Regions from separate parts of the Homo sapiens genome. Here region 2 is linked to region 1. The links come from fine-mapping of genetic effects on gene expression. A gene starts in region 1. The other region holds a variant in brackets. All regions are shown on one strand. Distances are between the middles of the regions.

The links. PIP is the estimated chance that this variant, and not a neighbour inherited with it, causes the effect.
Region 2: its variant is the best candidate, but not a certain one, in a credible set for the expression of SAPCD2 in prefrontal cortex (BrainSeq, PIP 0.73).

What each region holds. Positions count from the first base shown.
Region 1 is chr9:137,068,924-137,071,921 of GRCh38, forward strand. SAPCD2 (suppressor APC domain containing 2) reads right to left here and starts at 1,634. Exons shown (of 6, transcript NM_178448.4): 1 at 967-1,634. The coding sequence starts at 1,537. RefSeq lists silencers at 962-1,011, 1,062-1,111, 1,282-1,691 and an enhancer at 1,796-2,775.
Region 2 is chr9:137,046,098-137,048,705 of GRCh38, forward strand. It overlaps NPDC1 (neural proliferation, differentiation and control 1), which reads right to left and starts at 80. Exons shown (of 9, transcript NM_015392.4): 1 at 1-80. ENTPD2 (ectonucleoside triphosphate diphosphohydrolase 2) reads right to left here. Exons shown (of 9, transcript NM_203468.3): 9 at 2,010-2,608. The coding sequence ends at 2,560. RefSeq lists enhancers at 145-814, 2,547-2,608. The variant T/A (reference allele first, on the strand shown) is at 977.

The DNA of each region.
Region 1 (2,998 bases):
CACCAGGGAGGCCAGGGCCGCCGTGGCTCCAAACACCAGCTGTAGGGCTGGAGAATATGGCTGAGGTGGGGGAGCAGTACAGGGAGGGTGGCAGAGCAGCAGGCAGCACAGGGACCGGCAGGAGCCACCGGTGGGCAGGCCTCCCCTGGCAGAACGGGTGCACAGGCCGAATGGGCTGTGGGGCCTGGGGCCCCTCTGGGAGCTTGGCCCCCCAACCCCAGCCATAATACAGGTCCTGTTCCCAAGGCAGGCACTGGGTTGGGGGAGACAGGGGACCATTCAGCAATCTCCCATCACTGCCAACTGGACCGGAAGGCAGGAGAGGAGTGTGCCAGCCATCCCCAGGGACTACGGCCTATGTCCCTCCATGGCATCTGCCATAGTACAGCCCCACTGGGGTGCAGGAGATCCACCCACGCCCCTGCCCATCTTGGCAACAGGGCCAGGTCCTCTTGGGCCACCAGCAGCAGCCCCCGCCTGCCTAGGCCTCAGTGGGGTCAGTGGGCCCAGCCCCCCTGGCTAAGCTGTCACACTGAGAAGGGGGACCCTTTCTTTGAGAAGGAAGCACTTCTGCCTGAGCAGCCACAGACAGGAGGCTGAGGGCCCAGGTGTCCCCAGGTGCGGAAAGGGTATTGGAGATGGAGAGCCCAAGCTCAGGCTTGGTACAGGTTGGGCTCCCGGTGGGTTTTCTGAGTCACCTGCCACCCCCCGGCCCTGGTGGCCTTATGCTGTGGCAGGAGAGGGTCTGGCTTGCCTCCCTAAGCAAGCCCCTGGGCTCACCGCGACAAGCATGAAGCCCTTTCCCTCCAGACCCGCCGAGGCGCCCTCCAGGATCCGGAGTCCACGAAGAGCCGCTCCCCGGTCCCGTCCCTTGTGGGAAATGCACGGGCAGCAGCTGTGGGACTGCGGTTTCTGGCCCGGGCCCGGGAGAGCTACGAGGGTGCCCGGGGGCCGTCCGGAACTCACCTGCGTCCGCGCTGGAGCTCGGTTCCAGCGCCGCGCTCTGGGACCGCTCGGGCTCCGCGGGGCAGGGCGCCGCCTCAGCCGGGGCGCACAGCTGCTCCGGGCTGCGGGCGGCGGCGCTGGGACCGGCCAGAGGGGCGCGCACGCCCAGGGGCAGGGGCTTCCTCTCCAGGACCGTCCGCGGCTCGTCGGCCGGAGCGAACACCAGGCGCTGCGGCGGCGGCGGCGGCTGATCCCCGGGCCGGGCCGGGGCGCGCGTGGGGTCCCGGGGGCCGCCGTCGGCGCTCAGCAGGGAGGTGCGCAGGCCGGCCACGAAGCGCTCGAAGGTCAGGTAGCCGCTGGCCGGGGCCACCTGGCGCAAGCCCTCCAGCACCCCGCGGGGCAGCTCCCGCGCGTCGGTGCCCTGCCAGCGGGACTCGATCTCGCGCAGGTGCACGCAGCCGCGCCGCCGGTCGTCCAGGATGTCGAACAGGGTGCGCAGGCTCTGCAGGAAGGCGCGCGGCAGCCCCTCCGTGCTGGGCGCGGGTGCGGGGGGAGGCACGCGGCCCCGCTCGGCCATGGCGGCCCCGGCCATGGGCGCCCGGGATCGGTCCCCTCGTCCACCCGCGTGCGTCCCAGCGCGGCCCCACGGAGGGGCCGGCCCGGCGAGCTCAGCCCACGGCGACAATAGCGACTACTTTTGAATGGGGCCCTCCTCGCGGCGTCAGCCCTCATTAACATGCGCCGCGGCCATTGGCCGAGCCCGTCCCATCTGCTCTCTGATAGGCTGAGAGGAGGTTTGATTTTTTTTTTTTTTTTCTTGCCGAGTGGCCCTGGGAGGCGCGCGGAGGCCCTGGGCAGGCGGAACCGGATCCCCCAGCTCCTGCTCCACTCTGGCCTCGCAGACCTTCCTTTCTGCCCCGCCCCAGCCCCACCAAACCTCCTGCCGCGGCCAGGCGCTTTCTCGGATCCAGCTGTGGCTGGCTGCCCCGGCCACCTCTCCAAGGGGCGGGGCCTGGCACCCTACAAAAAAACCTGTCTCCAGGTAGCCTCGTGGGGTAAGAATGGGGGGGGGCACCCCCTCCAAAGATCCCACTTTTCCCCTCTAGTTCCCTGGCCGCAAGCACAGGTGACCCTGCGGCCCCCTTCTCTTCCACCAGGAGGGCCCCAAGAGGATCGTAGGCTCCAGCCAGCTGGGCGCTTCCCACTCACAGAGGCCTTTCTGTCCCCACTGCTGCTGGCTCCTCCTCTGGTCCCTCGGGACAGTCTGGCCTGGCCTGCCTGCTGCAGAACAAAGCCACTTTCTCCTGTGTCCCCAGATCCCCATCTAGTGACCAGCTCCCTCTGCCTCTTGCTCTCCTCTCCTCCTTCCCCTGGCTGGACACCTCCTCCAGCTGCTCTCCTGGCTCCCGCAGCCCTGTCCCCCTGCCTCTGCTGTGTTTCCAGCTGGGATCTGGTCACTCTGTCTTCATTTGGTCTGTCCACATGGGAGGTGAGACCAGGCCTTAGCCTGGGTTCTAGCCCTGGGAGCCCATCTCAGGGCTGGCCAGTAGTACCCTCTAGGTTCCAGGGAGGTGTTCAGGGTGCAAACACCCTCCCCAGACAGGCCCCCAATCCGAGACTTGCCTTGGCCCTCTGCGGGTCTCCCACCCTCCCTCCTGGGCAGGCCTCAGCTGGCATACCTACCTGGGTCTCTGTCCTCAGGCCTGAGCCACTGGTGCCTGTGTCTCAAGCTGTAGAGGCATCTTCCCAGGCCAGGGAGTATCCTGGGTCCACTTCTCTTCTGGGTCACTCACTCTAAGTGGGACTCCTTCATCGTAGGGAATGCTGGAAGGACATAAGAAGCTCTGAGCCTGGAGCAGCCCATCAGAGCTTGGTCCTGTAAGCCAGCTTCCCCTTTAATGGCTGGTCTGCTCAAAAACCCAGCACGAGGCCGAGGCGGGAGGATCACTTGAGCTGGGGAGTTCAAGACCAGCCTGGGCAACATAAGGCAACCCTATTTCTACAAAAAGTTTAAAAAATTAGCCAGGCGTGGTGGTGCATGCCTGTGGTCCCA
Region 2 (2,608 bases), 23 kb before region 1:
GAAGAAGAGGCGGATGCCAAGGAGGAGGAGGAGGAAGAGGAAAGGCACGGGCGGCGGCGCTGACGCTGCAGCAAGGATCCGGGATGGAGGCGCCGGCGAGGCGCGCACGCGGAGACTGCGCCTGCGCGCTCCACCTGAGGGGGCGGGAGGGCGGCTCCAGACTGCGCCCCCTCCCCCTGCTCCAGTTCTGGTCCCCTCTCCGGGCCTCGCTGGACCTCTCTCGGCCTCAGGGTGTCTCGGCACCTGCGGTCTCTGGGGCCGGTGCGGTTCCCAGAAGTCCGGCTGGGTTTGGGCCGCGGGTGGGCTTCTCCAGGATGCGCTCCCTTCTGGCCTCTTCCCGGTAGGACTCCGAGCCCCTCACCCGCACCCGCGATGGGGCAGAGGACCTGTGTGGGCCTAGCCTCGCGAGCGCACAGAGACACAGGAGCGCCGGGCGCACGCAGACAGGTGCTCACGAGCTGGGCAGGTGCACAGGAAGGCACAGGTGTGCCCACAGAGGCAGGGGCACCCCCACTCGCGGGAAAAGCAAATACAGGAACACAGAACGGCCCCGGCCCCGACTGCAGCTTTGGCTGGAGCCGCGGCGGCCGCGCTCAGTGAGGCCACCAGGGGGCAAGAGTGATCCGGAGCCACTGAGGACCGGAGCTGGGAGCTGTCCAAGGTGTTCAGGGTCCCCAGGTGACAGCCCTTTAGCTCCCTCAGGACAATGGGCATCTTTTTTTTTTTTTTTCTTTGAGACAGCGTCTCTGTCGCCTAGCCTGGAGTGCAGTGGTGCCATTTCGGCCCACTGCAACCTCCACCTCTCGGGTTCAAGTGATTCTCGTGCCTCTGCCTCCTGAGTAGCTGGGATTACAGGCGCGTGCCACCATGCTGGGCTAATTTTTGTATTCTTAGTACAGACGGGGTTTCACCATGTTGCCTCAGCTGGTCTTGAACTCCTGACCTCAGGTGATACGCCAGCCTCAGCCTCCCAAAG[T/A]GCTGGGATTACAGGCGTGAGCCACTGTGCCCAGCTGACAACGGGCATCTCTGATGCCCCCCTTGCACCTCACCTGTTGCCTCCCAAGAGCACGCCCACCCCATCCCACTAGAAACCTCCTTTGACTAGTCATTCAGAGAACAAGAGTGAGACCTCCAACCCGGGGTGTCCCCTTGGTCCTTCCAGTCTCAGAACTCCAAAGCTGGGGCTGGCTGCCCTCAGGTTTATCAAATGACTTTAAAAAAAAATGGTGAAGAGGGGAGGGAAGAGCAGAATAAGAACCACCACCCTCCTCGCCAGGGCACTGAGCATAGAGACAGTGTCTAAGCTCACTTCCCAGGAAGGTGAGGAGGCGAGTGGGCAAGACCAGGCCTTCCCATCCTGGAGAAAACTGGCTTGGGGAGGGGCTGCAGGGCCTGGCTGGGGCTGCAGGATGCCTTTTGGAGGTGCAGGACACTCAGTCCCAGGTGAGAAGGGCAAGGTGCCCTGTGCCATTGCATGGCTCAGCTCCACAGCCAGGTTCTGTGCAAGATTCCTGCCTATGGGTCCTGGTCCTGATCTCATCTCCCACCCCTGTGCCACCTCCTGATGTGGGCCTGCCCTCCCGCCAGTCTCTACCAGCACTGACTGCCCCCTAGGAAGCCGCCTGGCTGGCTGCCACCCACTCTCCGCCACCTCCCTGACCTCTACCCTCACCCCCAGGCTCACTGTACCAGGACCCAACCTTCAGTCTGGCCTTGGTCACCAACGCAGATCTGGATGTGATGGTTTTGGGGAACTCTGCTGGCCAGAGAAGACTCAAGGGCCCAGGAACATTCCCTCGGGCCAGCCATCCTGCAGCTACTCTAGGCTGCCACGGCACACCAGGGCAGCAGCCAGTGCCCCAGGCCTGGCTCCAGAGCAGAAGGCAGTAGGGAGGGATGGTGTCCACCCTCAGGACCAAGGGCAGGCCCGTGCGGCTAGAACAGCGGGAAGGTGGGGGCACAGGCCACAGCAAGGATGCCCCACCCCACAGACACTCTCCTTTCACGTCTCTAGGAAAAACTTTTTATTACAAAATTTTTACAAGTAGGTGCTGGGCTGGCTGCCAGCCCGTGGGCTGTGACCCTCCCCAGTACAGACCCAGACTACACAGAAGGAGCCTCTAAGGGCTGATTCTCAGGACCAAGGCCCCACTCTCTGGAGACCCAGCCCTGAGGAGGAGGAGGAGGAGCACGGGGCCTGCAGTGATGCCCAGGCTGAAGCGGGCTGGAGGGGTTCAAGGAGCTGGATTGAGCGCTCTTTGCCCACCCAGGCTCCTGTGGGTACCAGAGTCTCAGTTCCTATTTCCTGGGCTGCCTTAGGGGCAGAGACGCTGAGGGTGGGGTGGAAGGATGGAGAAGACAGTGGTGGGGTGGAGCGGTGGGGGATAGAGGGTGGGTGGAGGAATGCAGGATACAGGGGCGGGGAGAGAGGTTGGGAGAGGGGTGGGTGGAGGGGTGGGGATACAGGGGTGGGAGGTACAGGGGTTGTGGGAGGGGTGGGAGTACGGGGTGGGGATACAGGGGTTGGGGGAGGGATGGGGCAGCTGCCCCCGTCGGCCCCTAAATGGTGCTTGGCAGCTTGGCGGAGTGCACCTGACGCAGCAGCAGG